4 linked regions of the Homo sapiens genome follow. The protein of the gene in region 1 interacts with the protein of each later gene in a pairwise test. Each region holds a gene or a part of one and is shown in the gene's direction. Other genes may lie near its edges. The genes, in order: COQ8A, LYNX1, LYNX1-SLURP2 and MTIF3.

Region 1 (7,794 bases):
TTTGTGGAGTTCTTTTGTAGTTGCTTGAAGCATCAGTGTCAAGGTCAGTGAACCTTTTCTTTTTCTTTTCTCCTTTGGTCAGCCTGCTCACCAAAGAGACATATTTACGTGTGTGTGGAGAAAGATGCTTTACTTCTGAGTCTAAATTTTGCCTTCAGTGTAATCCAGAATTTATGCCCCAAATTTCTAAGTCCCAAACTGATTGGCACGCAGAAAAACTGAAAAACAGGGATTTCTTGCACAGGGCAAGGAAAACCATCCTAAGCCTATTCAGTGAGTTTCTTTTTCTTGCTGTTTTGATCCTGTGGGGATGTATCAGGATTTTCCTGTAACACTCCTTGGTCAGTTAGGGGATCTTTTGGGTGCCCTTTGTTGCCTGTAGAAAAGGATCAGGAAGGAAGGTCACTTCTCCTTTCTCAAAGAGAATTTTAAAGAAGGCTATTATTGGGAAGCTCAAAACTTGGCAGGATAATTTTCCAGTAAGAACCATGGACACTGAGTCATTATCTTTGTCCGTTGAAACAAGAGCTGTGTGCAAAATTAGACAGGAATATTTAGACAGAGAGTTGTCTTGATTTGACAGTGGCATCTGGAGATACTTCTGTCATTCCTGTTAAGCAACAGCCAGGAACTCGGGAGAGCCAGTGGAAAGGAGAGCTGGTGGGAGTGAGTGAGTTCGAGGGTCCTGCTCTTTCTGGAGTTGCACATATGGAGGGGTGGGAGCCCCACGGAGGTGGTTTGTGAGAAGTGAGGATGGCCCGAGTCCCCAAGGGGAGATAGAACTGAAGGCATGGATTCAAAGAAATTTATGCAGGTGGAATTTCTAGACTGACTACCTGACTGGATATATGGCTGAGATTTCTAATCAGGGGGAGGAGCTGGTTGATGGAGGAAGAGCTGGTTTGGGAGAAGGTGGTCATCTTAGTTTTAGACATGATGGGAGCCTATGGGACTTCTTTCCATCCTGTTTGATATAATTTGCATACGGTAAATTCATCCTTCTTAGTGTGCAGTTCTGCGCAGTTTGACAAACGCACATAGTCACATAACCCCTACCACAATCAAGCTATAGAACAATTTCATCACCCTCCGAAATTTCCCTGCACCCCTTTCCAGTTGCCTGTGGGTCTTTGAAGTGGTGATGCGGTATGTGTGTGTGTAACTTGGTTTGTTCTGGAAATGGGTTCGGTTGTTGAGAGGTCCTGCCTGGCCTGAGTGTGGGGAGGCATCAGTGCAGAGCCTGTGGAGGGGCTCTGGCACCCCAGGAGCCAGTGCAGATGGCAGGGAGGCAGGGGTGTCGAGGACCAGCCTGGGAACTCCCAGGCCTTGGAGTAGGTGGAGAAAGAGGAGCTGGGGGAGGAAGCTGAGGAGGTGAGGCCAGAGAGGAGGGAGGAGGGAGGGCTTCTGGGAAGAGTGTGGGGCCAGCAGGGAACACTGTGGGGCAGGGGGTGGCTGAGGAGACCCACTGGCTTGAGCCCTCAGGTGTCACAGAGGGGCAGCTTGGGGTTGGGGCCAGAAAGTGTGTGCCGAGGGAGCAGGGAAGATGGCAAGTGCACTCCATCCTTGGGAGATGGTAGCCATGTCCAGAGGGTGGAGGAGAAGCAGAGCCTATGGGAGGTTTATTTAAATGTTTGGTACAGGAGAGCAGAGAGTGGGCTTGTGGGCTTCAGGGGAGGGCTTTTATGATTGAAGGCAAAAGAAAAAAATAGGTCAGGGGCAAGGTCTTGTTGCGGGAAGGAGGAGGGATGGTCAGTGTGGGAGGAGATTGGACAGAGGCAGGGGAAGGGTCTGAGAGATGTGGCCAAGAATGTGCGGGCCCTCCTATCTGGTTGCCCCCATTTCTGGAGTAACAAAGGTCCGCTAAAGAGGGGTCGAGGCCTTCTGTTTAATGTGAGAGGGCCAGGGGTGGGGGCTTGAAGAGCCTTAGGTGCCTCAGCATCCTTTGAGGAGTTGTACCCTGAGAGAGAGAGAGAGAGAGAGAGAGAGAGAGAGAGAGAGAGAGAGAGAGAGAGAGAGTGAGAGAGAGAGAGTGAGAGAGAGAGAGTGAGAGAGAGAGAGTGTGTGTGTATGTGTAGAAGGGAGGCAGGAAGGTAGGTGTTTCCGGGTCATTTGGAAAAGCCCAGTCCCTTATCTCTCCCTACCTCTGCACCGTCCACTGGAATTTTCCATTTCCCAGAGGTGTGTTTCCTGAGAGACAGAGAGGCTGTAGCGCCCCTCTCTGCCTTTCTGAAGACAGCAGGGTTGGTCTGCCTCTTACCTCTCACTATTTCATAGAATCTCTAGAAGGATCAGTATCTGCGTTGTTTTGAGCATTACTCTTTCTAGACCCCGTTACATCCCAGCTTTCAGAACAGCCCTGTGTGTGCTCTCCTTGCTGACTTTCTGCACTCCAGGGATGCATGGCCCTTTCCTAATCTCTGGGAACTAGACCTCCTCCAGGTCAGTCGCCTCACTTACACATGAGGAAATGAGAAAACGCAGGCCCCAAGAGGAGAAGCGGTGTGCCTGAGGTCACCCGCGCTTGGTGGCCTTGCTGTTGGTCCTCCCCGTCGGCCCTCATCACAATATATGCGGTGTCATCTGGGAACTGGAGGACCTGGTGGCAAGTCCCTGCTGTTCACGGGGCTGGATGAGGGGTCCTGGGGACAGTCCACATGAAAAGAAATGTTAAAGTTCAAGCTCAGAGCCTGGGCCCCAGCCCAGTGTTTGTTCTGTGCTTGGCACATTTTTTGTTTGGCACTGATACTGGCTCAGAGGAGGGTAAAAGTAAGAGTCGATTGCCCGGTAAGCTGAAGGTGGTTACTGTTTGACACGTGCTTGAGCAAACATCTCTAATCTTCCCGAGATTGAAAAAATCCTGTGGCTCTTGCTCCCTAAGGTGTTTACAGCCAGCATGTGGTCAAGGGTTGGACATTGTGCTGCCGCGATGCCTGTTGTAGCTGCTGTTTACACCTGCTTGGTGCTCACGGTTCATGGGCCAGGGCTGATTGGCCTGCTGAGGAACAGCTGCCTGCTGGCTTCAGCCCCTCCTCTTTTCCCTCAGTCTTAGACAGGGACGGGGGTGACGCAGAGGAAGCAGTAGCAGTGACTGCGTCCCCTGCTCCCTCCCTGGGTCTGTGTGCCCACCATGAGCGGGATTATGAAGCTGGCTTGGAAACTCATCTGGCTTTTGCTCCTGTAAAAATCACTTTTTGAACAGGGTGCTGCTGCCATTTCTGTGGCTGTGCATGTTGGGGATTCAGGTTCCCCTGGTGCTCAGCCTCCTCGGTGGTCTCTTCAGTCCTGGGCTCTCGATGAGGGAGCTCAGGAAGCCACGGAGCCTGGGTGCCTGGGTCCTGCCTCACTGACTCATAATGCTAATAAACTCGTGTGTATGAGGACAGTGCCAGACCCCGTTGGGGGTACAGAACTGGGAAAGAGAGGGCCCCTCCCTCCGGAGCTTACCTTGCAGTAAGGGAAATGGGACAGGCACACACAGAGTCATACAGGGCATGGCGAGGTGACCTTAGGCCATTAAGAGATGAGGGAGTTTAGAGGAAAGGAGATGACTTGCCTATGGAGGGGTTTACCAGTCCAGCAGGGTGGCCAAGATTCCAGCAGGGGAAATGATATTCCATGGGGAGGAGGGAGCAGGATGTGGAAGCTGGAAAACCTGTGTGGGTGTTGGGCGGGGCCGGGGGTCCATTCTGGCTGAAGCGTTGGGGCACGGAGGCATCTAGCGAGAGGTATCGCTGCAGAGGTGTCTGGGGCTCCACAGTGAAGGGCCTTGCTGGCCAGGCCAGACCAGGGAGAGTGGAGATCAGCAAGGAGATGGCCACCTCTCCTGGGTCTGTGGTCCCCTTGCACCCTGCTGAGCCTCTTCTCATTTCTCGTTGCGTGTGTGGTTGTTGTCTGTCTAGGATTGCCCCTTGTCTGGGTTAACTGGGTGATTTTAAAAGCTATCGAGGTTTTACATACACATGTAGTGCCTAAGGGTTGTGTGTGACCTCAGGGCAGAACATGTTTATTTAACTTCCATACCAGTGATGTGTGCATGTCCACACCTGGCCTGTGTGTGGCATTTGGAGGTGATGCTAATAAAGGTTGGTGCTGGTGTTGAGTGTGGCAAGACTGAGGGCCGTGTGCCCGATGGCTCCTCCTAGCTCTTGCACACCCAGAGGCAGTCTTCAGTGTAGGGCGTCTGCCTCTTTCCACTATTTATGTTTAAGATCAAACTGGCTCTGGAACCAAGCTTTGCCTCTAGTGGGTAGGATCACTGGTGCTGAGAATTGTGATACCCTCAGTCCTGGCAGCTGACAAACTTTCCAGAGCAGGGAGTTTGGCCAGATGGCCTTTGAGAGCCCAGCTGGCCCCAGAATTTTTATGACTCAATTTTCTGTAACCAGGAAGACACATTTCAGGATGTAAACCTTGCTGATGTCTCATATTGAGTGACTATTGATTTAACAAAAAAGGAGTTATTGATTTGGGGCAGTGTTCTTCTCTGCTATCTCTCAGCTTCCTAGGCAGTAAGAAGAAAGGACTGGAGCCTGAGTCAGACAGGTGTGGAAGGGTCCAGCATCCCACAGCTTTGGCCCTTAGGAGATTGCTCAGCCTTGATGAGCTTTAATTATCCTATCAATGAGTGGGGATAATACCTCACCAGGTCTTTGTAAGAACTAGAGGTAATATAAAGTGACAGGCAGACAGAGGGGAATAATAAATGGTAGCTGTTCTTGTTATTATTCCTATTTCATTGAGATATTAAACCTGAAGTAAAAGTGTTTTGAAAGATTAAGAATATAAAACCGAGGCCAGGCACGGTGACTCACACCTATAATCCCAGCACTTTGGGAGGCCGAGGTGGGCAGATCACTTGAGGTCGGGGGTTCGAGACCAGCCTGAGCAACATGGTGAAACCCTGTCTCTACTAAAAATACAAACAAATTAGCCAGGTGTGGTGGTACCCACCTGTAGTCCTAGCTACTCAGGATAATCACCTGTGCCTGGGGAGGTTGAGGCTGCAGTGAGCTGTGATCATGCCACTGAATTCCAACCTAGGCAACAGTAAGACCCTGTCTCAAAAAAATATATATATATATATATCTATCTGCCTGGCATGTAGTATGGGCCCAATATAGAGAAAGTCAACAGGACTCCGTCATTAAGAACAGGAATGCACTGAGCTGTCTGTGGGGTAGTCTACCACCCAGCTTGGTGCCTCGCACTTGGTTGGCATTCAGTAGTATTTGTGGAGTGACCAAAGTTAATTTAGAAGAATGGTCTGGAAATTATTCTAGAATACAGCCCCTCTCCCCAACCCAAGGATCTGCTTTAATTTCCTATGGCTGTTGTGATAAATTACCACAAAGTTTGTGGCTCAAAGCATCATAAATGTATGATCTTACAGTTCTGGAGGTTAGAAGTCTGAAATTGGTCTCACTAGGCTAGAATCAAGGTATCAGCTGGGCTGGTTCATTTCTGGAGGCTCAAGGGCAGGACCCGACCCCTTGCCTTTTCCAGCCTAGAGGCTGCCTGCATTCCTTGGCTTGTGGCCTCTTCCTCACAATGGCATCACTCCAGCCTCACTTCTGTCTCCCATCACCTCGTTCTGACTCTGCCCTGCCTGCCTCCCTCTTATATGGGCCCTTGTGATTACATTGGGCCCACCTGGATAATCCCCCATCTCAGGATCCCTGACTTCATCATATCTGCAAAGTCCCATTTGCAGGTAACATTCACAGGTTCTGGGGATTGTGGTATGGGTATCTTTGAGACACCATTATTCAGCCTACCACAGCCACCCACAGTATTTTGGCCAGATTTAAAGACAACCCTGTAAGCGTCTGAAAGAAACGTTGAAAGAAACCCTTCAACCTCAACTTTAGGATCCTTAATTACCTTCCTGGGTGGCAGTGGTTCGTGAATTCAGTCAACGCTTGCGCTTGTAATTTGTGTGGGTGGATCACTCTGTGTGTGTGGGTGGAGTGGGAAGAGTCAGAGTTGTCTGAGACAAGAGCCTCCCACAAGGAGCTTATAGTTTGAAGAGAAGAGAGGTCCATGTGCAAGAAGAAGAGTAACTTACAATGTAGGAATCTGACCAGCAAGTTAGATCAGCTGTCAGGAGAACGTAAATATGGAAGAGCTGGGAATCAAGGGCCTGAATAGGAATACGTTCTTGAATTTATATGGTGCTTTAACACATTTCAAAGTATATCCACCCACCCCTCCATTTATATTGGACAATATAATAACTTATACCATCATTTCGAGGAGAGGAAACAGGTCAGAGATGGTTCGAGAATATGCCTGGAGCAGCCCAGCTGGTCAGGGCAGAGCTGATTCCCAGCCCCAAGGCCCCAAGGCCCTCACCCTTGGCTAATGGGTGGGTTTTCAGACGTACAGAGATGAAGGGGCGAGCGGGCCTGCCTGAGAAAGTAGGACCTGCAGAGTGGAGTGCGCTCACATGGCTCGCGCGTAGCTGGAGGCTGGAAAGGAGGCCGGGGGCCTGATTTCGATGCCTGGGACTTCAGGCGCAGGAGTTTGGGTTTTATATATATGTCTACATACATGTCTACAGGTAGAGGAGCCATTTGAGCAACGCGTTGGCATGATGAACGTGGGTTTTTTTATAGGGAGAGGAATCTGGCAGGAGAGTGTTCCATGGCTCGGAGCTGGGGAGCTTGTGGGAGTTAGAGGGGTTTTCTTCCCAACTGCCTCTCCCTGAATGTACCTGGACAAAAGCCTCCCATGCTGTTTTCTCCTTTAAGGTGAAGTGGTAAGGAATACCAGTGGACATTTGTGTCCCTGGTTTCGAAGCAGGCTGCCAGCACTTTGGACTGCCTCTCCTGAATGATGCCTCATACCACAGCACTAAATAAACCACACTGGTCCTCCCCAGCCCAGCCTTCCTCCCAACTCAGGTATGAGACTGTGCCTGGCAGGAACAACTGCGGGTTATCCAGACTGATCCCATTCACCCTAACCGTTGGTCTCACCAAGTCTGAACTTCATTCCAGAATGTCTGTGTGCTTGCAATACTACTACTAATAATAATGGCATTAGCTAATGGTTTTTAAGCACCTACTATATGTCCTGAATGCTGTTACATGGATTTATCCAGTCCTTTCAAGAACAGATGAGGAAACTGAGGCACAAAGATAAGCTCACATGACTTGATTTAGGTCACACTAGCAAGTCAGTGGCAGAGTCATGATGTGAACCCAGATCACCTAACCTCAGAGCATCTTAACCATGTCACCAGTATCACTTCCTGAGCCAAATATTTTAATTTAAATGTTTTAAGCAGTAAACTTCACTAGGTTTTTAGTCAGAAAACTAAATTGCCATCAGGACCTTGCGCTTGGCTGGTTGGCCTTTAAAAGCCTTGTGTGTCATCGGCTATATCAACTCACAGAGTGGGAGAGGCTGCTTGGGACCCTCTGTTGCCTGCCTGTGGTTGGAGCTCTGAGCCCATGCAGGTTCGCTCACAGTGTTGGGTCCTTCTCTGGACTATCATCAGAGGCTGGAACTTTGCCTTCTGCTGCTTTTATATCACCCCCAACCCTGCCCAGCTCCCAACCCAGTGCTCACCACAGGGCAACTCACCCAGGGAATCCTAAGAATATCTTAATCTTCCAATGGATGGAGAATGGAGGTTTGCAGCCTGGGACATCAAAAACACACTGTTTTGCTCTTTTTCTCCTCTTACCTGTTAAACAGGTTGCCTAGCTCCTGAGCCATGATGGATCCAGGTCCCAGCTTTACTTCTTAAAAGCTGTGTGACTTCGGGCAAATTACTTAACCACTCTGTGC
Region 2 (8,457 bases), on another chromosome or scaffold:
CAAGACTCTGTCAGGCATCTTCAGTCCCACACAGGGCCTGCAACCTTGTAGGTGTGGACAGCGCAGCTGGCCAGAGGGGGCCGACAGCCCTGCCCCCATGTCCTGAGTGCCCCTGAAGGAGGAGCTCCCTCTGCCAGAGCCCAAGCTCAGAACTTGCAGGGAGATGCTTAGGCATAGGATTGAGTGGTGGGGCCCCAAGGCACAGCCACTGAGGTTTGGCCAGCACCCAGGGGTGGGGCACTGTCCCTGTCATGGGGTGCATGGCTGACTCTCCTGGCCCATCACCGGATGCAATTTTCTCTATGCCTTAAAAATGGAAATGCTAAAAGCAGTCAAAGCACAATGTCCAGACAGAGGGCAGCTGTCAGGGAGACTGTGCAAAAGCAACTGACCAGGTCCTCTGAAAAGGGATCCTCCCTCCACCTGCTCGGAACTTCTGCTCTCCTCACCGTCCAGTCGGGCCTGAGCTCCCACCCGGCCCCCTCTGGCCAGCTGCGCTGTCCCCACCTACAAGGTTGCAGGCCCTGTGTGGGGCTGATGACGCCTGACAGCATCTTGGCTGAAAGGCCAGGTGGGAGAAAGAAAGGAGCATTATTCAGTCAGATCAGGGGGGCCCAAGAGCCTCCCTTAACGCCCAGTCTCGACAGCCAGATCCCACGGAGGGCTGGAGGGGCAGCCCCAGCCGCCCACTCCACTGGCCAGCCCCCAACTCAGAGGCAGCTAGCTTTGGTTTGCAAGAGGTCCTTTCTCTGGTCCTGCCATGGACAAGCCGGACTGGGGAGGGTTGTTGAGGTCCTCCTCCTGGAGGGGCATTCTCAAACATTGCTCTCATTGATTTTTCTCTATCTTCTTTTTCTACCTCACTTTTTTTTTTTTTTTTTTTTGCTTTTATTTTTGCTATTTTCTTCATTTTGCTTACCTTGGGTTTGATTTGCTCTTTTTGTTCTGGTTTCCGAGGGTGAAAGTTTAGGTGGTTTTTTTTGGAGAACTTCTTTCTCTTCCAAAAGAAGTTTTAGCTCTTTTTTTTCTAAAAGAAGCATTAGTGCAAAATTTCCCTCCAGGGCCCACTTCAGCTGCATCCTTTGACTTTGATGAATTGTGTTTGCATTTTCATTCAGTTGGAAATATTTTCTGATTTCCTTTTTGGTTTCTCCTTTGACCTATAAGTTGTTTAGAAATATGTTATTACTCAGTTTCTAAATATTTGATGATCTTTTAGATATATTTCTGTTATTGATTTCTAATTTAGCTCCATTGTAGTCCAAGCAAATAATCTGCATGATTTTAATCCGTATAAATTTACTGAGATTTGTTCTATGGCCCAGAATACAGTCTGCCTTGGAGGACATTATTGGTAAATAAAGGTGTGTTCCCCTTCTGTGAGGTGGAGTGTCCTACAAACATCAAGTTGGTCATGTTGACTGGTAATGTGATCCACGTCTTCATCCTTACAGACTTTTTGTCTATTTTTTATCAGTTCTCGAAAGAGGAGTGTTGAAATCTCTGTTATTGTGGATTTTCTTTTTCTCCTTTCAGTTCTATCAGATGTTGTTTGTTTTGCTTTGTGTATTTTGAAGCTTAATTGTTAGGTGCATACATATTTAGAACTGCTGAGTCCTCTTCATGAACTGATCAATTTATCATTTGGTAATGTCCCTCTTTTTAAATTTTTTTTCTTTCTTTCTAGTACAGATAGTGTTTTGCTGTTTTGCCCTGGCTGGTCTCAAACTCCTGGCCTCAAGCAATCCTCCCACCTCAGCCTCCCAAAGTGCTGGGATTGCAGATGAGAGCCACTACACCTGGCCAGTAATGCTCCTCTTTATTTCTGATTATAGTCTTTGCTTTAAACCTACTTTGATATTGACGTAGTCATGTCTGTGTTCTTTTAATTGGTGTTAGCATAGTATATCTCTCTCCATCTTTTTACTTTTATCTTATTTGTGTTTTTACATGTCTGGTGAGTTTCCCACTGACAGCATATACTTGGCTGTTTCTATTTTTATCCAATCTGACAACCTCTGTTTTTAATTGAGATGTTTTTGTTTGTTTTTGAGGCAGAGTCTCACTCACTCTGTCGCTCAGGCTGGAGTGCAGTGGCACCATCTCAGCTTACTGCAACCTCTGCCTCCCAGGTTCAAGCAATTCTCCTGCCTCAGCCTCCCAAGTAGCTGGGATTACAGGCACCCACCGCCATGCCCAGCTAATTTTTGTATTTTTTAGTAGAGAGGGAGTTTCACCATGTTGGCCAGGCTGGTCTGGAACTCCTGACTTCAAGTGATCCACCTTCCTCAGCCTTTCAAAGTGTTGGGATTACAGGTTAGGATTACAGGTGTGAGCCACCGTGCTCAGCCTGATTGAAGTGTTTAGATGACATAGTGTCATTATTGCTGTGGCTGGGTTTAAATATATGTCATCTTGCTATTTGTTTTCTATTTGTCTCATTGTTTTTTCCTTTCTCCTCTTCTGCAGTCTCTGTAACATGTGCTTTTATAAATAAATAATTCTGTATCATCACTTTTGTTGATTTATTAACTACAGTGCTTTGACTTTTGCTTTTTTCTTTGTCTTTTTTTAGTGACACTTTAGCGTCTTAGCATACACCTTTGACTTACTAGTCTACCTCCAAGAAATAGTAGGCCACTTCACATAGAGTAGAATAAATCTACAACAGTGAACTTCCATTGTCCCTCTCCTGGTCTATTTGTATTACTATTTTTTTTTAAATTTATTTGACACAGCGTCTTGCTCTATCACCCAGGCTTCAGTGCAGTAGCGTGATCACAGCTCACTGCAACCTCCACCTCCTGGGTTCAAGTGATTCTCCCACCTCAGCCTCCTGGGTGCAACCTCAGGTGTGCACCACCACACCCAGCTAATTTTTTGGTATTTTTTTTTTTTTAGAGATGAGGTCTCTCTACGTTGCCCAGCCAAGCCTGGTCTTGAACTCCTGGGCTCAAGCGATCCACTCGCCTCAGCCTCCCAAAGTGCTGGGATTACAGGCGTGAGCCGCGGTGCCCAGCCTGCACTACTATTATCATACAATTTACTTCTACATTTGCTATAAATTCCTTAATACATTGTTATTATTTTTGCTTTAGGTAATCAACTATCTTTTAACTTGATTCAAAAATAAGAAAAAAATTACCTTCTATTTCCTATTTCTGGTGTCATTTATTCCTTTGTGTAGATCCGTATTTCTGCCTGAAGAACTTCCTTTAACATAAAGGTCCCCAACCCCTGGGTCACAGACCGGTTAGGAACCACGCCACACAGCAGGAGGCGAGCGCTGGCGGGCGGGCAAGGGAAGTTTCATCCGTATTAATTCATCGTGGTCTGAGGCTGAAGACCGCGACATACTCTGGTTCTGACCTATGCGTTCCTTCCACGCCCCTTATCCCACCAGAGTGTGAGCTCCATGGGGTGGGAATATTCTGGAACGTCTGCTGGTTTTATTCTTTGCCTTCTCCCCAACTAGGACCTGGCACAGGAGGGTGCGCATTACCTCTCGGCAAACAGAACAACTAACTGGCCTAGTTTGCTGGGGACCGAAGGATTTCCTGGAACCGGAGCCCGCTTGCCCAGCAGGCATGGTGTATTCTGTACCTCAGGCCCGCAAAAATGTTTTAAAGAAAAAAATGAGCTTTAGGGTAGAAGAAAAGGTTTTATTTTTCTTTCTCACATTGGAAAAAATGAAAACTTTCGGACCCATGAAATTTTATTACATTTTGCCAAAAACAGAACCAATAACATAAGTATTCAAAGTTATGTAAAGATAATTATTTAATATGAACATTATGATGGTGAGAGGGACCACGGAGCAAGGGGCTGCCTTGCAGGCCTGCCTTCCAGCTTTGCTACAGGGACCAGAAGCGGGAGCTGAGCGCAGGGGAGGCAGGCGGAGGCCATGGGCAGCGAGGCGGGTGCGCCAAAGGGCGCCAGTTCCGGAGCTGCTGGGCCTGGGCTGCAGGAGGGCGGAGCTGGGGCCGCAAGGCTGGTGCCGGCCGACAAACGACGCGGCGCGGGCGAGTGGGCGGAGGCGGCTGCGGGGAAGGCTGGGCTGCCGCGGGACGCGGTGAAGATAGCCTGCGGAGTGTCCGGGCTGAACACGTGAGTCTGAGGGTCGCCAGGGAATCACTGCGTGGCTGCCTCTGTGTCGGAGATCCAGATGCCTGGACTGGCCTCGGGGTCCCAGCGCTTGCCCGGCGAGCCGGCGGTCCGGGGACGGGTCCGGGCCGAGGCCTGCGGTGAACTCGGCTCGGCGGGTGCCCAGGAGGCGGGTCCGGGGCGGGGCCTGCGGTGAACTCGGCTCGGCGGGTGCCCAGGAGGCGGGTCCGGGGCGGGGCCTGCGGTGAACTCGGCTCGGCGGGTGCCCAGGAGGCGGGTCCGGGGCGGGGCCTGCGGTGAACTCGGCTCGGCGGGTGCCCAGGAGGCGGGGCAGGGGCGGGGCCTGCAGTGAGCGCGGCTTGGTGAGTAGCCCAGGAGGCGGGTCCGGGGCGGGGCCTGCGGTGAGCTCGGCTCGGGGGGTTGCTCAGGAGGTGGGGCCGGGGCAGGCCTGGGGCGGGGCCTGCGGTGAGCTCGCGCTGGGCGGGCTGTTCCGGGGGCGGGACTGGGCTGGGCCTGCGGTGAGCATCAGGCGATGCGGCACGGGTGCTGCGGGACACACAGACACGCCTACGATTAGACTCAGGCAGGCACCTACCGGCGAGCGGCCGCGGGTGACTCCCAGGCGCGGCGGTACCTCACGGTGGTGAAGGTCACAGGTGAGGTCACCCTGATAGTCCCGCTCGCGCCGAGAGCCCTCCCCTCGACCTGGGACCGCAGTGTTTGGGGCGGGGCTCTCCGTGAGGGGGTTGGGAAGCTCGAAGCCGCAGGCCTGACTCTGGCCTTTGGCATCCTGGGGTTGGCCTGGGCAAATGTGTCGTGAGAGACGGATTTGTTGTTCTCGGGAAGGCGTAAGTTTAATTTAGTCCTCCAGGACGGAGACCGAGGGCCGAGTATCCCGGCAGGGGTAGGAGAGCCGTAATCCAACCCCCACCTCCCCACTGTAAACCTCTTTCCAGAGAGGGCATTCCCGTTCCAAACACCAGACCCAGCCGGGGAAATGCTTCTTCTTGTCTGGCCCAAGTGCCCTCCTGGGAGGGGCTCAAAATGCATTCCCCCCAAGCTGGGCACAGCTCATCCCTGCTGGGGAGCTTCTGCAGTGGCCGAGGACTCAGACAACCCTAACCAGGGCTCTGGAGGTCTTCTGGAAGAAGGAACCCCAAGTAGGGACACCCCAGGAGCAGAGAGGAGGGGAACAGCGAGAAGAGACCCAGCTTTTGGGCCCAGTCCTGCCATGGCCAGCCATCCGGCCCCCAGGGCCCTGCTTGGGATGGGGCTGCAGACCACCTCCCATGGGACCTCTGCACCAACCATCCCCTGGGTAAAATCCTTGTTTAGGCCTGGTATTTAAGGCCCCTCTGCCCATCCCTACTCCTTCTCTAGCACTGCCCCTCATCCTCCCCCCATCTCTCCTCCATCCAGCGCTACAGGCTGTTTTGAGCTTTTGCAGGTGCTGGTCTCTGATTGAAATGTCCTGATCTCTTCTCCCTTCTTGTCCCATCCCAAGTGTCTCCTCCTCCAGGAAACCTTCCCTGACACCCACTGAGTTAGGTGGCCCCTCTGCCCACCATCATCCCTGCCCAGGCCCCCATGGGTCCTTCAGGCCCAGTACTGACCACCTGTCTTTGCCACCTGCTGTGCAGGGTTGCAGCACTCCCAGTAGACCAGGAGCTCCGGGAGGCAGGGCCGGCCCCACGTCCTCTGCGCACCACCCTGAGTTGGATCCTCTGTGCGCCACCCCTGAGTTGGATCCAGGGCTAGCTGCTGTTGACCTCCCCACTCCCACGCTGCCCTCCTGCCTGCAGCCATGACGCCCCTGCTCACCCTGATCCTGGTGGTCCTCATGGGCTTACCTCTGGGTAAGATGGACAAAGGACAGAGGGATGGGCAGACCCACTTTGAGGGCAGATGGGCTGACAGTAGGGAAGGAGGCTAGAATTCCCAGCGACAACCCCTCCTTCTAGCCCCCTGCCCCGGGGAAGGTGACGGGCTGGGGGCCTGATGGGCTGGAGGAGGGGCCTCTCATGTTCTGTGACCCCCGTTCCCTTCCCGCCCATCTGCCAACCCCAGCCCAGGCCTTGGACTGCCACGTGTGTGCCTACAACGGAGACAACTGCTTCAACCCCATGCGCTGCCCGGCTATGGTTGCCTACTGCATGACCACGCGCACCTGTGAGTCTGGGGGCCCTGCGTGGCCCTGCCTGGGGAGCACGAAGGGGAGGTTCTGCCCTGCCCCTGAGCATGCGGGGGTCCTGAGGAAGGAGGCTCTCCTGTTCCCGGATCCTGTCTGGGAGCTCCAGGCTGAGGGGCCCTGCCCTGATGGCTGTGGATGCTGGGGTGGGGCCAGCTGGGTCTCCTGCCCCTCTTAGCGGAGCTGGCTCACCGCCCCGCCCCTCTGCAGACTACACCCCCACCAGGATGAAGGTCAGTAAGTCCTGCGTGCCCCGCTGCTTCGAGACTGTGTATGATGGCTACTCCAAGCACGCGTCCACCACCTCCTGCTGCCAGTACGACCTCTGCAACGGCACCGGCCTTGCCACCCCGGCCACCCTGGCCCTGGCCCCCATCCTCCTGGCCACCCTCTGGGGTCTCCTCTAAAGCCCCCGAGGCAGACCCACTCAAGAACAAAGCTCTCGAGACACACTGCTACACCCTCGCACCCAGCTCACCCTGCCTCACCCTCCACACTCCCTGCGACCTCCTCAGCCATGCCCAGGGTCAGGACTGTGGGCAAGAAGACACCCGACCTCCCCCAACCACCACACGACCTCACTTCGAGGCCTTGACCTTTCGATGCTGTGTGGGATCCCAAAAGTGTCCGGCTTTGATGGGCTGATCAGCCCCTCGCCTGTCCAGGGCTATTTATGGGGAGGGGCCCAGTCAGGCAGGGAGCACTGAGCAGATGGGAGCTGTGGCCAAGCCCACCTTCTGGGAAGCCCTAGGAGAGGCCCCTGCCTCAGTCTGCCCCTGGTGTGCTGGGGCAGGGGGAAGACAAGGAATGCCCGCAGGTGGGGTGGTGGGGAGACTCTTAGGAGGAAAGGCTCCTCCAGGCCTAGTCACGCTTCCTACTGAGGCCAGGAGCTGCCAGGACCGGTACGGGATCAGGGCTGTGGGAGGAGGGCCTTTGGCACCGGCCCCTGTGCTAGGAAGTCTGCCAGGCCCGAGTTGGAGCCACCCCCTGCAGGGGAGGGGGCGGCTCTGCCTCAGCAGGCCCCAGGGCCCCCGAAGTCACAGAAGCTTTTTCGGGTCCAGCAAGGGGTGTGTGTCCTCTCAGTCAAACCCCTTGACGTTTCCCACCCCCTCACGGGGAGGGCACCAGGCCTGAAGCTGGCAGGAGCTAGGGCCATGCTATATTTGGTGGGTCCTGGACGCTGACCCGGCCAGCGCTATTCTGGGCAGGGAGGGAAAGGGGCAGAGCAGGTGGTCCCCCGAGTCCTGGTCCCCAACCACAGCAGGACCCAGCCGAGCAAGGCAAAAGACGCAGGACTGGGGGATGCGCGCACAGGCTGGGGGTTGGGAGCAGCCTGGGGCCGGCGCGGGCCTGGGCGTGGGAAGGCGGAGCATGCCACCCTCTCGTGGCCGTGCGGGGGCGGGAGTGGGGAGGGTGGGGTGGGGAGGGCGGAGACCCAGCCCCTCCCCCGCAGCGGGATGCGCACAGTGAGTGGGTCCCTCCATCACCTTCCACCTGGGGATGCACCCACTGGGAGGGCAGGGTGGAAGCCCCAGCTGGGTGTGTGGACTCCCAGGGACCCCACCCCAGGCCTGGGAAGCAGGGGTCAGCCCAACACGCACCAATCCATCCCCGATGCAGGTAGCCCAGGGAGCACCTGCCCCTGCTGTGAATGGGGCATTCGGGGGCGTGAGACCTTTTGGTGCCAGCGGTCACGCTGCACCTGAGGCCCCCACCTGACCAGTGCTCCCAGCTCTGGTGTCCTGAGAAACCCTTCAAGCCATCCCGCATGGGCAGGATGGTGACATATCCATGTGGTAGGATTGTCCCGGCCCCAAAGTATGGCCCTGGTCAGGGGAGCCCCTGCTGGAAATTGCATCTCCAGAGCTTTGATGCAGGACCCCTGGGGGATCAGGGAATGAGGGTCTCCACCCCAGGGGTCTCCTTGCAGTGAGTCTATATGCAGGCCTGCGTTCTGCTCCTGGGGCTGGTTCTGAGTGCCCAGCTTCAGTCTCCTGAGAACATGAGGATGGGAGGGGGCAGAGTCTTGCTGAGGGCACACCCAGTTCCCGCTGGAGGAGGACAGTGCCAGTCTTCTGCAAAGGGACCTTGGGTGGGAACGGGCCCGGAGCGGGAGGAACGTGACTCCCCAGAGGGAAGATGGGCATCATACTGGGCCCAGAGCT
Region 3 (8,583 bases), on another chromosome or scaffold:
TCAGACCCCACCTAGTGCTCCTGCCCTTGGCTGGAACTGGGGGTGGTAATGCTGCTGGTCTCATGGTGCGTGGGACAAAGAGCTGAGTGCCTGGACCCAGGGCCAGGGAGCACCACTGACCCCTCACCAGCTGCCACCCATGCTACACCACTGTCTGCTGGCCGGGGCCGGAGGGGGCTCGGTCACCATAAGTTTTCCAGGCCAGACCTGTGAGGGAGCTGCCCTGGGGGAAGGCAGAGCTCTGCTCTGACCCAGGTGAGGCCTGAGACTTCCCATGCCGGGGGCGTGGGGTCAGCCTGCAGGAGCCTCTGGCCCTCTCCAGAAGGGGAAGGGCCCCTTGCTGGGGCATCTGCCGGGGGCCTCATCTCACTCCACGTCACAGCCTCATCCCCGAAATACCAGAACCCACGCAGTGGGTGCGGAACCCTCCCTGCCTCTGGGCGACCTCACCTGGCCCATATTCCCTGCGTCATGCTCCCCGCCCCCTCCAGTCCAGCTTCACCCTGGTGAGGTCTGGCCAAGGGGCTGCTGGGTTCCCATGGATGGGGATGGGCCCAGGCAGCTGGACTTGCCCTGGGTGGTGGCTGTGGGTAGTCAGTGTCCACATGGCTCCGAGGCTGGGGTTGGGCCTGGGGTGTTCCAAGCCGGCCTCTCTGGAGGCTCTTGAACCCCAGTCTCAGGGACATGACCCAGGGTGAAGGGGTGAGGGCGCCCCTTCTCCCCTGAGTGCTGGCATGTGGGAGGGGCCTGCGAGTGCTCCTGGAGGTCTGAGTATGAGCGCCCTCTGGTGGCCACCGGAGAGCCGGGTGCCGGGGCTCCTGCACAGGGAAAATCCGCCTTCGCCCAGGCCAGTGCCGCTCATGGCCCCATCTGTGCCCTTTTCCACTCCACTCTGGACAGGTGGCCTGAGGCCTGCCAAGCGCCCAGGGCAGGGTGTGCGAAGGCACCTGGGCATGGGAGTCGGGCAGAGAGCAGAGGGGTAGGAGTGCCTAGGCCGCAGGCCCACCCATCCCCACTTCCGTATGGGGAAACTAAGGCTGGGCAAGGGAAAGTGACTCCTGCCACTTCACGGCAGGCTGGCTGCAGGAATCCTCATCCAGGGCCCAGGGAACGGGAGTGCTCTGTGTCCAGTGCAGCCTGGAGGCAGGCGGGAATGCCACCTCCCCTACCACTCCCACCCCTGAAAGGCAGGAAACGGGGGCTGTGGCCACCAAACTCCAGGAATGAAGGAAGAGGGAGTTCTGCTGGTGGGTCAGGGAAGACTGCAAAGCAGCAGCAGGTACAGGGACAACGAAGGCAGCATGGATGAGGCTGCGTGCGGGCCCTGGGCAAAGGCCCAGGAGTGGGAGCGAACCTGCAGGATCCAGAGAGGGCTAGGCTGCCCATGTGGCTGCAATGGGGCCTGGGAGCTGGCAGGACTCCAGACCAAGCCCAAGGACAGTCACAGCTCATAGCCCATCACTGCCCTCTGCCCTGTGCCTCCAGGGGTCCCTAGCTCAGTCTCCCAGCCTCCAGGCTGCTTCTCTGTGACCCTGCTGGACAGCTCCTCAACTGTCCTGGACACAACCTGACCCCAGCCCCAGCCCCAGCCAAGACTCTGTCAGGCATCTTCAGTCCCACACAGGGCCTGCAACCTTGTAGGTGTGGACAGCGCAGCTGGCCAGAGGGGGCCGACAGCCCTGCCCCCATGTCCTGAGTGCCCCTGAAGGAGGAGCTCCCTCTGCCAGAGCCCAAGCTCAGAACTTGCAGGGAGATGCTTAGGCATAGGATTGAGTGGTGGGGCCCCAAGGCACAGCCACTGAGGTTTGGCCAGCACCCAGGGGTGGGGCACTGTCCCTGTCATGGGGTGCATGGCTGACTCTCCTGGCCCATCACCGGATGCAATTTTCTCTATGCCTTAAAAATGGAAATGCTAAAAGCAGTCAAAGCACAATGTCCAGACAGAGGGCAGCTGTCAGGGAGACTGTGCAAAAGCAACTGACCAGGTCCTCTGAAAAGGGATCCTCCCTCCACCTGCTCGGAACTTCTGCTCTCCTCACCGTCCAGTCGGGCCTGAGCTCCCACCCGGCCCCCTCTGGCCAGCTGCGCTGTCCCCACCTACAAGGTTGCAGGCCCTGTGTGGGGCTGATGACGCCTGACAGCATCTTGGCTGAAAGGCCAGGTGGGAGAAAGAAAGGAGCATTATTCAGTCAGATCAGGGGGGCCCAAGAGCCTCCCTTAACGCCCAGTCTCGACAGCCAGATCCCACGGAGGGCTGGAGGGGCAGCCCCAGCCGCCCACTCCACTGGCCAGCCCCCAACTCAGAGGCAGCTAGCTTTGGTTTGCAAGAGGTCCTTTCTCTGGTCCTGCCATGGACAAGCCGGACTGGGGAGGGTTGTTGAGGTCCTCCTCCTGGAGGGGCATTCTCAAACATTGCTCTCATTGATTTTTCTCTATCTTCTTTTTCTACCTCACTTTTTTTTTTTTTTTTTTTTGCTTTTATTTTTGCTATTTTCTTCATTTTGCTTACCTTGGGTTTGATTTGCTCTTTTTGTTCTGGTTTCCGAGGGTGAAAGTTTAGGTGGTTTTTTTTGGAGAACTTCTTTCTCTTCCAAAAGAAGTTTTAGCTCTTTTTTTTCTAAAAGAAGCATTAGTGCAAAATTTCCCTCCAGGGCCCACTTCAGCTGCATCCTTTGACTTTGATGAATTGTGTTTGCATTTTCATTCAGTTGGAAATATTTTCTGATTTCCTTTTTGGTTTCTCCTTTGACCTATAAGTTGTTTAGAAATATGTTATTACTCAGTTTCTAAATATTTGATGATCTTTTAGATATATTTCTGTTATTGATTTCTAATTTAGCTCCATTGTAGTCCAAGCAAATAATCTGCATGATTTTAATCCGTATAAATTTACTGAGATTTGTTCTATGGCCCAGAATACAGTCTGCCTTGGAGGACATTATTGGTAAATAAAGGTGTGTTCCCCTTCTGTGAGGTGGAGTGTCCTACAAACATCAAGTTGGTCATGTTGACTGGTAATGTGATCCACGTCTTCATCCTTACAGACTTTTTGTCTATTTTTTATCAGTTCTCGAAAGAGGAGTGTTGAAATCTCTGTTATTGTGGATTTTCTTTTTCTCCTTTCAGTTCTATCAGATGTTGTTTGTTTTGCTTTGTGTATTTTGAAGCTTAATTGTTAGGTGCATACATATTTAGAACTGCTGAGTCCTCTTCATGAACTGATCAATTTATCATTTGGTAATGTCCCTCTTTTTAAATTTTTTTTCTTTCTTTCTAGTACAGATAGTGTTTTGCTGTTTTGCCCTGGCTGGTCTCAAACTCCTGGCCTCAAGCAATCCTCCCACCTCAGCCTCCCAAAGTGCTGGGATTGCAGATGAGAGCCACTACACCTGGCCAGTAATGCTCCTCTTTATTTCTGATTATAGTCTTTGCTTTAAACCTACTTTGATATTGACGTAGTCATGTCTGTGTTCTTTTAATTGGTGTTAGCATAGTATATCTCTCTCCATCTTTTTACTTTTATCTTATTTGTGTTTTTACATGTCTGGTGAGTTTCCCACTGACAGCATATACTTGGCTGTTTCTATTTTTATCCAATCTGACAACCTCTGTTTTTAATTGAGATGTTTTTGTTTGTTTTTGAGGCAGAGTCTCACTCACTCTGTCGCTCAGGCTGGAGTGCAGTGGCACCATCTCAGCTTACTGCAACCTCTGCCTCCCAGGTTCAAGCAATTCTCCTGCCTCAGCCTCCCAAGTAGCTGGGATTACAGGCACCCACCGCCATGCCCAGCTAATTTTTGTATTTTTTAGTAGAGAGGGAGTTTCACCATGTTGGCCAGGCTGGTCTGGAACTCCTGACTTCAAGTGATCCACCTTCCTCAGCCTTTCAAAGTGTTGGGATTACAGGTTAGGATTACAGGTGTGAGCCACCGTGCTCAGCCTGATTGAAGTGTTTAGATGACATAGTGTCATTATTGCTGTGGCTGGGTTTAAATATATGTCATCTTGCTATTTGTTTTCTATTTGTCTCATTGTTTTTTCCTTTCTCCTCTTCTGCAGTCTCTGTAACATGTGCTTTTATAAATAAATAATTCTGTATCATCACTTTTGTTGATTTATTAACTACAGTGCTTTGACTTTTGCTTTTTTCTTTGTCTTTTTTTAGTGACACTTTAGCGTCTTAGCATACACCTTTGACTTACTAGTCTACCTCCAAGAAATAGTAGGCCACTTCACATAGAGTAGAATAAATCTACAACAGTGAACTTCCATTGTCCCTCTCCTGGTCTATTTGTATTACTATTTTTTTTTAAATTTATTTGACACAGCGTCTTGCTCTATCACCCAGGCTTCAGTGCAGTAGCGTGATCACAGCTCACTGCAACCTCCACCTCCTGGGTTCAAGTGATTCTCCCACCTCAGCCTCCTGGGTGCAACCTCAGGTGTGCACCACCACACCCAGCTAATTTTTTGGTATTTTTTTTTTTTTAGAGATGAGGTCTCTCTACGTTGCCCAGCCAAGCCTGGTCTTGAACTCCTGGGCTCAAGCGATCCACTCGCCTCAGCCTCCCAAAGTGCTGGGATTACAGGCGTGAGCCGCGGTGCCCAGCCTGCACTACTATTATCATACAATTTACTTCTACATTTGCTATAAATTCCTTAATACATTGTTATTATTTTTGCTTTAGGTAATCAACTATCTTTTAACTTGATTCAAAAATAAGAAAAAAATTACCTTCTATTTCCTATTTCTGGTGTCATTTATTCCTTTGTGTAGATCCGTATTTCTGCCTGAAGAACTTCCTTTAACATAAAGGTCCCCAACCCCTGGGTCACAGACCGGTTAGGAACCACGCCACACAGCAGGAGGCGAGCGCTGGCGGGCGGGCAAGGGAAGTTTCATCCGTATTAATTCATCGTGGTCTGAGGCTGAAGACCGCGACATACTCTGGTTCTGACCTATGCGTTCCTTCCACGCCCCTTATCCCACCAGAGTGTGAGCTCCATGGGGTGGGAATATTCTGGAACGTCTGCTGGTTTTATTCTTTGCCTTCTCCCCAACTAGGACCTGGCACAGGAGGGTGCGCATTACCTCTCGGCAAACAGAACAACTAACTGGCCTAGTTTGCTGGGGACCGAAGGATTTCCTGGAACCGGAGCCCGCTTGCCCAGCAGGCATGGTGTATTCTGTACCTCAGGCCCGCAAAAATGTTTTAAAGAAAAAAATGAGCTTTAGGGTAGAAGAAAAGGTTTTATTTTTCTTTCTCACATTGGAAAAAATGAAAACTTTCGGACCCATGAAATTTTATTACATTTTGCCAAAAACAGAACCAATAACATAAGTATTCAAAGTTATGTAAAGATAATTATTTAATATGAACATTATGATGGTGAGAGGGACCACGGAGCAAGGGGCTGCCTTGCAGGCCTGCCTTCCAGCTTTGCTACAGGGACCAGAAGCGGGAGCTGAGCGCAGGGGAGGCAGGCGGAGGCCATGGGCAGCGAGGCGGGTGCGCCAAAGGGCGCCAGTTCCGGAGCTGCTGGGCCTGGGCTGCAGGAGGGCGGAGCTGGGGCCGCAAGGCTGGTGCCGGCCGACAAACGACGCGGCGCGGGCGAGTGGGCGGAGGCGGCTGCGGGGAAGGCTGGGCTGCCGCGGGACGCGGTGAAGATAGCCTGCGGAGTGTCCGGGCTGAACACGTGAGTCTGAGGGTCGCCAGGGAATCACTGCGTGGCTGCCTCTGTGTCGGAGATCCAGATGCCTGGACTGGCCTCGGGGTCCCAGCGCTTGCCCGGCGAGCCGGCGGTCCGGGGACGGGTCCGGGCCGAGGCCTGCGGTGAACTCGGCTCGGCGGGTGCCCAGGAGGCGGGTCCGGGGCGGGGCCTGCGGTGAACTCGGCTCGGCGGGTGCCCAGGAGGCGGGTCCGGGGCGGGGCCTGCGGTGAACTCGGCTCGGCGGGTGCCCAGGAGGCGGGTCCGGGGCGGGGCCTGCGGTGAACTCGGCTCGGCGGGTGCCCAGGAGGCGGGGCAGGGGCGGGGCCTGCAGTGAGCGCGGCTTGGTGAGTAGCCCAGGAGGCGGGTCCGGGGCGGGGCCTGCGGTGAGCTCGGCTCGGGGGGTTGCTCAGGAGGTGGGGCCGGGGCAGGCCTGGGGCGGGGCCTGCGGTGAGCTCGCGCTGGGCGGGCTGTTCCGGGGGCGGGACTGGGCTGGGCCTGCGGTGAGCATCAGGCGATGCGGCACGGGTGCTGCGGGACACACAGACACGCCTACGATTAGACTCAGGCAGGCACCTACCGGCGAGCGGCCGCGGGTGACTCCCAGGCGCGGCGGTACCTCACGGTGGTGAAGGTCACAGGTGAGGTCACCCTGATAGTCCCGCTCGCGCCGAGAGCCCTCCCCTCGACCTGGGACCGCAGTGTTTGGGGCGGGGCTCTCCGTGAGGGGGTTGGGAAGCTCGAAGCCGCAGGCCTGACTCTGGCCTTTGGCATCCTGGGGTTGGCCTGGGCAAATGTGTCGTGAGAGACGGATTTGTTGTTCTCGGGAAGGCGTAAGTTTAATTTAGTCCTCCAGGACGGAGACCGAGGGCCGAGTATCCCGGCAGGGGTAGGAGAGCCGTAATCCAACCCCCACCTCCCCACTGTAAACCTCTTTCCAGAGAGGGCATTCCCGTTCCAAACACCAGACCCAGCCGGGGAAATGCTTCTTCTTGTCTGGCCCAAGTGCCCTCCTGGGAGGGGCTCAAAATGCATTCCCCCCAAGCTGGGCACAGCTCATCCCTGCTGGGGAGCTTCTGCAGTGGCCGAGGACTCAGACAACCCTAACCAGGGCTCTGGAGGTCTTCTGGAAGAAGGAACCCCAAGTAGGGACACCCCAGGAGCAGAGAGGAGGGGAACAGCGAGAAGAGACCCAGCTTTTGGGCCCAGTCCTGCCATGGCCAGCCATCCGGCCCCCAGGGCCCTGCTTGGGATGGGGCTGCAGACCACCTCCCATGGGACCTCTGCACCAACCATCCCCTGGGTAAAATCCTTGTTTAGGCCTGGTATTTAAGGCCCCTCTGCCCATCCCTACTCCTTCTCTAGCACTGCCCCTCATCCTCCCCCCATCTCTCCTCCATCCAGCGCTACAGGCTGTTTTGAGCTTTTGCAGGTGCTGGTCTCTGATTGAAATGTCCTGATCTCTTCTCCCTTCTTGTCCCATCCCAAGTGTCTCCTCCTCCAGGAAACCTTCCCTGACACCCACTGAGTTAGGTGGCCCCTCTGCCCACCATCATCCCTGCCCAGGCCCCCATGGGTCCTTCAGGCCCAGTACTGACCACCTGTCTTTGCCACCTGCTGTGCAGGGTTGCAGCACTCCCAGTAGACCAGGAGCTCCGGGAGGCAGGGCCGGCCCCACGTCCTCTGCGCACCACCCTGAGTTGGATCCTCTGTGCGCCACCCCTGAGTTGGATCCAGGGCTAGCTGCTGTTGACCTCCCCACTCCCACGCTGCCCTCCTGCCTGCAGCCATGACGCCCCTGCTCACCCTGATCCTGGTGGTCCTCATGGGCTTACCTCTGGGTAAGATGGACAAAGGACAGAGGGATGGGCAGACCCACTTTGAGGGCAGATGGGCTGACAGTAGGGAAGGAGGCTAGAATTCCCAGCGACAACCCCTCCTTCTAGCCCCCTGCCCCGGGGAAGGTGACGGGCTGGGGGCCTGATGGGCTGGAGGAGGGGCCTCTCATGTTCTGTGACCCCCGTTCCCTTCCCGCCCATCTGCCAACCCCAGCCCAGGCCTTGGACTGCCACGTGTGTGCCTACAACGGAGACAACTGCTTCAACCCCATGCGCTGCCCGGCTATGGTTGCCTACTGCATGACCACGCGCACCTGTGAGTCTGGGGGCCCTGCGTGGCCCTGCCTGGGGAGCACGAAGGGGAGGTTCTGCCCTGCCCCTGAGCATGCGGGGGTCCTGAGGAAGGAGGCTCTCCTGTTCCCGGATCCTGTCTGGGAGCTCCAGGCTGAGGGGCCCTGCCCTGATGGCTGTGGATGCTGGGGTGGGGCCAGCTGGGTCTCCTGCCCCTCTTAGCGGAGCTGGCTCACCGCCCCGCCCCTCTGCAGACTACACCCCCACCAGGATGAAGGTCAGTAAGTCCTGCGTGCCCCGCTGCTTCGAGACTGTGTATGATGGCTACTCCAAGCACGCGTCCACCACCTCCTGCTGCCAGTACGACCTCTGCAACGGCACCGGCCTTGCCACCCCGGCCACCCTGGCCCTGGCCCCCATCCTCCTGGCCACCCTCTGGGGTCTCCTCTAAAGCCCCCGAGGCAGACCCACTCAAGAACAAAGCTCTCGAGACACACTGCTACACCCTCGCACCCAGCTCACCCTGCCTCACCCTCCACACTCCCTGCGACCTCCTCAGCCATGCCCAGGGTCAGGACTGTGGGCAAGAAGACACCCGACCTCCCCCAACCACCACACGACCTCACTTCGAGGCCTTGACCTTTCGATGCTGTGTGGGATCCCAAAAGTGTCCGGCTTTGATGGGCTGATCAGCCCCTCGCCTGTCCAGGGCTATTTATGGGGAGGGGCCCAGTCAGGCAGGGAG
Region 4 (6,216 bases), on another chromosome or scaffold:
CTGAGAGAAGACCAACCCCTCCTCTTGCTCCTCCTCCTCAGCCTACTTGATGTGAAGACAATGAGGATGAAGACCTTTATGGTGATCCACTTCCACTTAATAGTAAATATATTTTCTCTTCTTTATGATTTTCTTAATGACATTTCTTTTCTCTAGCTTGCTGTATTGTAAGAATACAGTATATAATACATATGGCATACAAAATATGTGTTAATCAACTGCTTATGTTATTCATAAGGCTTTCAGTCAACAGTAAGCTATTAGTAAGTTTTTGAGGAGTCAAAGTTATACACAGATTTTCAACTGCACAGGGGGTCTGTTTCCCTAACTCCCAAGTTGTTCAGGGGTCAACTAAGTAGTCAAATGAGATCATGTGTACAGAAAAAAAAAAAAAGTGAAACCAAAATGCTATGTAAATCTGGTTTATTCTAATAGCCACTTGTCTTGGGGACAGTATCACCATGAGTTAGTCTGGCCAGAGTCACCTGCTAGTCCGCTTTATCAGTGTAGACTTCCTGTGTGTGGATCTGAAAGTCTAGAGAACAGCATTTCCCTCACACTTGCAGTTACAGCCTCCACAACCTCACACACACCCTGCCATGTACCACAATGTCAGACCAAGGGAATAAGTGATTGAATTTTAATGAACTCTTCTTACTACTTTCTTAGGATGGCTGCTCTTTTTCTAAAGAGGTTAACACTACAAACTGTAAAGTCTGAAAATAGTTGCATTAGATGTTTTGGTAAACACATCCTGCAAAAGACAGCACCAGCACAGTTGTCCCCTATTGCTTCTGCCCCAAGACTCTCCTTCCTAATTCATGCAAAAGCCTTTAGTACCGCTGAAGACACCCAGAATGAAGGAAAAAAGACAAAAAAGAATAAAACAGCTTTTAGTAACGTTGGAAGAAAAATTAGTCAGCGAGTTATTCACTTATTTGATGAGAAGGGCAATGATTTGGGAAACATGCACCGAGCAAATGTGATTAGACTTATGGATGAGCGAGACCTGCGACTGGTTCAAAGGAACACCAGCACAGAACCTGCAGAGTATCAGCTCATGACAGGATTGCAGATCCTCCAGGAGCGGCAGAGGCTGAGGGAGATGGAGAAGGCGAACCCCAAAACTGGTAGGTATTTTGCTGTTGGCTCCCTGAATCCTTTAAGAGCTACAAATCAGCAGTTTAAATTCTAGCATTTGTCAAGGTGCCTGTGACAAGAGGGAAATGAGAAACTAGAAAATTCATGATTCAACCACCATTCCCAGTGTCTGTCTTTCCTCCTTTATCCTGCACTTACTCCTGTTCCCTTTTTTTCACTGTTTTTCCACAATACCCTGCCCATTATCTCTTCCCTTTAAACCTGTGTAAAATGTGGGAGAAACCAGGCAAACAAACCAAAGTGAAGAGAACTCTTTCCCCTGTCCTGTGGCCTTCTCCCAATGCCGCAGCAAGCTGAGTAGCCGATGGGGTGAAACAGAGTGAGATTAGGAGGGGTACATTCAAGTTCCCTGCCCTCTGCCGGGCCACTCATTTAACCTCCCTCCTTTTGTTTTTCTTCCCCTTCTTCAACTCTAAAGTGGAGGTGTTTGGTTAATTATCTGGAAGCACCTTTTTATTTTTTTGAGATGAGTCTCTGCCTGCCGCCCAGGCTGGAGTGCAGTGGTGCGATGTGTGCTCACTGCAACCTTCGCCTCCCAGGCTCAAGCGATTCTCCTGCCTTAGCCTCCCCAGTGGCTGGGATTACAGGCGCCCGCCACCACGCCCGGCTAATTTTTGTATTTTTAATAGAGAGGGGGTTTCACCATGTTGGCCAGGCTGGTCTTGAACTCCTGGCCTTAAGTGATCTGCCCTCCTCGGCCTCCCAAAGTGCTGGGATTACAGGCGTGATCCACTGCGCCTAGCCTGGAAGCACCTTTTCGACTCTGAAGTGATTCACAGAGCATCTCCCATGCCAAAGCATTGTGTTGCAATATCAGTAGCAACACTCTTAGATATACAACCAGTCACTTGACGAGGCACTTGTCATTTAAGCCTCACAGAAGTCAGGAATTGGATATTAAGCAAAGATGTTTGTTTTTCATAGTTCCTAAAAAGTGCCAATCATTATGAAAGTTCAATGGATGGCGCACGGGGACAGGCATCAGATGACTGCTCCCAGCACTGCATCGTGAGGTTGTGTGCCTTCAGAAAACCACATGTTATCTGCGGCTCAGTTTTGTAATGCCACATTTAACAAGGATGTTGACTGGAAAACAATATTCAGAAGAGACCAACCAGGGAGGATAATGACGTCAAACTATGTCACTTAAAAAAAAAAAGGTCACTGGGCGTGGTGGCTCACGTCTGTAATCCCAGCACTTTGGGAGGCCAAGGCAGGTGGATGGCTTGAGCTCAGGAATTCAATACCAGCCTGGGCAATATAGCAAAACCCCATCTCTACAAAAAATTTTAAAATTAGCAAGGTGTAGTGGTGCAAACCTGTGATCCCAGCTACTTGGGAGGCTGAGGTGGGAGGATCACTTGAGCCTAGGAGGCAAAGGCTGCAGTGAAGAACCATGATCATGCCACTGCACTTCAGCCTGGGTGACAGAGCGAGACCCTGTGTTTAAAAAAAAAAAAAAAAAAAAAAAAAACAGTCTTGCTCTGTTGCCCAGGCTGGAGTGCTGTGGTGTGATTTCGGCTCACTGCAGCCTCCATCTCCTGGGATCCAGCAATCCTCCCACCTCTGCCTCCCACACAGCTGGGACCACAGGTGCACACCACCATGCCTGGCCTTTTTTTTTTTTTTTTTTTTTTGTAGAGATGGGGTCTCGCTATGTTGCTCAGGTCTTGAACTCCTGAGCTCCAACGATCTGCCTGCTTCAGCCTCCCAAAGTGCTGGGATTATAGGCGTGAGCCAGCACACCTGGCCCCCAATCTTTATGATGAACCCTGGTGCATACTCTAGGGTCTATGAACCTAAATGGATCAAACTGCTCAGCAGCAGTGTATGCAGTTTCTCTACCTCCTCCCTCATTTGTCATTTTAATGGTGAGAAATTAATGTGTATTTCACTTTTTTCTTCTGTGAATTGCGTGTTTATATTCCTTTATTTTTCTACGTAGATGGTTTTTCTCCGATTTATAGGGTTCTCTGTTGTGTATGATGGAAAAAACCGTATCCCAGTTAGATTTTTCATTTTGCCTTTTTTTCTTAATGAGTTCCATCCCCTATCCTGAGATCACAAACCATTCTGTCTTTTCTTCTGTTTGTTTTAAAGTTGTATTTTTCACCTGTAGAACATTAGTATACCTGGGGAGACCTAACTTTTTGTCATCTATAAACTTCTCAATTGTCCCAACACCTTTATTGAGTGGCCGGTTCCTTCTCTATAATTTTCCAGTAGGCAGGATTTCTGGAGACAGAGGGCATGAACACAGGATGTAGGGACCCTTACCTGTCCAACAGTCTGGCTGACCCCTTATAGCAAGGAGAGCATCTCAAAAGGAGTGGGTAGTGCACTCCCAGATGCCAACCCACAGCTGATAGATAAGGATGTTAAGTGCACCATGAAGCCAAACTTGATCCTTTAAACGACTATCTTTTGGTGTTCTTTCAACAAACGATGGTTAACAATAAATGGAAGCATTTCAGATTTTAAGTACCCTTCCAGGGCAGGTAAAAAATTGGTACCTTTATGTGTATCTTCCCCATTTGAAAAGACATTTACTGGTCTGTGAAACTGAAAGCCAGATGAGAAGATTGTCAGGTGGCAACCTAGGATTTTATGATGGGCATGTTGGGAAGTTCAGGGTTCACAGTGGACTAGTCAGTAGTCCTTGCACCCTATCTGTTTCAAACCAGGACCAACCCTGAGAAAGGAACTGATTTTGTCTTCAAATATTGGACAACATGATTTGGACACAAAGACTAAACAGATTCAGCAGTGGATTAAGAAAAAACACCTAGTCCAGATTACCATAAAGAAAGGAAAAAATGTAGACGTGTCAGAAAATGAAATGGTAAGTAAAGAAGGTACAAGCCACTGCTTGTGCTTTGGGTCTTCTGATCTAAAAATACAATTGTAGGCCAGGCGCGGTGGCTCACGCCTGTAATCCCAGCATTTTGGGAGGCCAAGGTGGGCGGATCACGAGATCAGGAGATTGAGACCAACCTGGCTAACATGGTGAAACCCCGTCTCTACTAAAAATACAAAAAATTAGCCAGGCGTGGTGGCGGGCACCTGTAGTCCCAGCTACTGGGGAAGCTGAGGCAGGAGAATGGCGTGAACCCGGGAGGCGGAGCTTGCAGTGAGCCGAGATCGCGCCACTGCACTCCAGCCTGGGTGACAGAGCAAGACTCCGTCTCAAAAAAAAAAAAAAAAAAAAAAAATTGTAGAAAATCTGAAATATAAAGACAAAGTGACTGGTAATTCTTCCACCCAGTGATGTTAACAGCTTTCTAGTTTGCTTTTCAAAACTAAGCATACTGTAGATATAGTTTCCATTACAGCGTATTTTGCCATATGAACACATTATTCCTTAAAAGCAATATACTATTGTTTTATAAATTGTAGAATAACCCTTAAACAGGAAAATTAGAAACTTTATAGATTTTTTGTTTCTTCTTTGTACTTATAGGGGCATTAATTACGTAGACTGTCTTCTAGAAAGTGTGTAGTTTCCAATCCCATAAGTTTATGGAATACCTATTTTGCTTTTTTTTTTTAAAAGTTAGATAACTTTATCATCCACTAAGGGTATCCTTAGTAATCCAGCTCCACAGTAGAGTCACTTAAGCATAGGTCGCAACCCAGCTGATGCAGAATTTCTTGAGCCCAGGTATCCATTTGTTTCAGTCACTGAGAGAGACTCTGTTAGGGGCAATAGAGAGTGCTGAGAACTGCTCGGCTGACACCTTGGGGATGAGGAGGTATTTTGCCAATGCCCAAACCCAGTGCTTTCTGTTTGTGGGAGAGGGTAATGCTGAGCCAAACGTAGCCTCTTCGTGCCATGACGAAGTGGAGATTTAAAATTAGGAAGCATTCAGCATGTCAGTTTAGTTACATGGTGTTATTGTACAGATTTCAGTCAACTTAACCAGATACGTATGAACTGATTAGCTAATCACTTAACCGACAGCAGCAATTCAAGGGTGCCAGTTTTTGTGAATGTTCAAGCAGAACATTAGAAAGCACCAAAGCCTCTGATTTTAAATTAATCTTTGGCTGTTTCCCTTTTTTAGGAGGAGATATTTCATCAAATACTCCAGACTATGCCTGGAATAGCTACATTCTCATCTAGGCCACAAGCTGTTCAAGGAGGAAAAGCTTTAATGTGTGTTCTTCGTGCTTTCAGCAAAAATGAGGAGAAGGCATATAAAGAAACTCAAGAGACCCAGGAAAGAGACACTTTGAACAAAGACCATGGAAATGATAAGGAATCAAATGTTCTGCATCAGTAATTTTAATAAAGAAAAGCATGCTCTGAGAGAAAGCTCGCTCCTTGGTCTGCAGTCCTTTAAACAAAGCAGTGCAGTTCTTAGCCAAGGGTAAGTACTGCAACTGTCGAGAGCATCTTGTCTTCCACACAGTTGGGTGACTCTCCGTTTTGACACAAAGATAAGCCTTGCCCTTGTTTCCTTTTGGGAGGGATATATCCACTGAGATGAGAGGCCAAACTCCGTTTTTCACGAGATTTTTTGACCTTTGGGAATAAGGAAGACACACGATTAGAATTCAAAATCAAAACTGTCTGAGTTAATTTTACGATAGTCATATGTACCAGCAGATATAGTGTACAACATTGCTTTATGAGGAAGTAAAGTCTTCAACAGTAGTGCAGACTCAAACAGTAAAGCAGGTGAAAAGAATTCCAAACAGACTCCTTCTGGCCTTAAACAATTTCCACTTGAAAACTAAGCTTGCCTAAGTAGTTTCAACTTACTTTGAGCTTCATTTTCTTCTTGTCAGGATCATGTACAACAGCATGCCTAGTGAGACTTTGCTACAATGAAAGAGAAAGTTATTAATGAAATATTAATATGAAAACCATGTTGTGAAAGCATAGACTATAGGACCATGAGTATGAGGGTGAGTGCTTACTTTCATTGCAAATGTTTTGCCACAGCCAGCATGTTCACACACAAAAGGGCGGCTTTCCTCATGGAAGGAGAGGATATGGCTTTGGAGATTAAACACAGTTGTATAGGTTCTTCCACAGCCTTCTCTTGGACA

What was found.
Region 2: the proteins of COQ8A (region 1) and LYNX1 interact in binary tests that used the Homo sapiens proteins (3 or more experiments, as listed by UniProt).
Region 3: the proteins of COQ8A (region 1) and LYNX1-SLURP2 interact in binary tests that used the Homo sapiens proteins (3 or more experiments, as listed by UniProt).
Region 4: the proteins of COQ8A (region 1) and MTIF3 interact in binary tests that used the Homo sapiens proteins (3 or more experiments, as listed by UniProt).

What each region holds. Positions count from the first base shown.
Region 1 is NC_000001.11:226,942,734-226,950,527, forward strand, and holds part of COQ8A (atypical kinase COQ8A, mitochondrial), read left to right. Parts: intron 1-581; exon of another isoform or gene 582-670; intron 671-6,749; exon of another isoform or gene 6,750-6,902; intron 6,903-7,794. UniProt on the Homo sapiens protein: Atypical kinase involved in the biosynthesis of coenzyme Q, also named ubiquinone, an essential lipid-soluble electron transporter for aerobic cellular respiration.
Region 2 is NC_000008.11:142,773,409-142,781,865, reverse strand, and holds the start of LYNX1 (ly-6/neurotoxin-like protein 1 precursor), read left to right. Parts: upstream 1-4,663; 5' UTR 4,664-4,760; intron 4,761-4,843; exon of another isoform or gene 4,844-4,952; intron 4,953-5,334; exon of another isoform or gene 5,335-5,422; intron 5,423-5,744; 5' UTR 5,745-5,908; coding exon 5,909-5,960; intron 5,961-6,171; coding exon 6,172-6,273; intron 6,274-6,502; coding exon 6,503-6,699; 3' UTR 6,700-8,457. Other genes in the region: LYNX1-SLURP2 protein precursor, read left to right, coding at 5,909-5,960, 6,172-6,273. UniProt on the Homo sapiens protein: Acts in different tissues through interaction to nicotinic acetylcholine receptors (nAChRs).
Region 3 is NC_000008.11:142,774,873-142,783,455, reverse strand, and holds the start of LYNX1-SLURP2 (LYNX1-SLURP2 protein precursor), read left to right. Parts: upstream 1-5,583; 5' UTR 5,584-5,697; intron 5,698-6,253; exon of another isoform or gene 6,254-6,350; intron 6,351-6,433; exon of another isoform or gene 6,434-6,542; intron 6,543-6,924; exon of another isoform or gene 6,925-7,012; intron 7,013-7,334; 5' UTR 7,335-7,498; coding exon 7,499-7,550; intron 7,551-7,761; coding exon 7,762-7,863; intron 7,864-8,092; coding exon of another isoform or gene 8,093-8,289; exon of another isoform or gene 8,290-8,583. Other genes in the region: LYNX1 (ly-6/neurotoxin-like protein 1 precursor), read left to right, coding at 7,499-7,550, 7,762-7,863, 8,093-8,289. UniProt on the Homo sapiens protein: Acts in different tissues through interaction to nicotinic acetylcholine receptors (nAChRs).
Region 4 is NC_000013.11:27,434,903-27,441,118, reverse strand, and holds the end of MTIF3 (translation initiation factor IF-3, mitochondrial), read left to right. Parts: exon of another isoform or gene 1-102; intron 103-669; 5' UTR 670-670; coding exon 671-1,130; intron 1,131-3,845; coding exon 3,846-4,003; intron 4,004-5,225; coding exon 5,226-5,444; 3' UTR 5,445-5,476; downstream 5,477-6,216. Other genes in the region: GTF3A (transcription factor IIIA), read right to left, coding at 5,522-5,686, 5,927-5,986, 6,085-6,216. UniProt on the Homo sapiens protein: IF-3 binds to the 28S ribosomal subunit and shifts the equilibrium between 55S ribosomes and their 39S and 28S subunits in favor of the free subunits, thus enhancing the availability of 28S subunits on which protein synthesis initiation begins.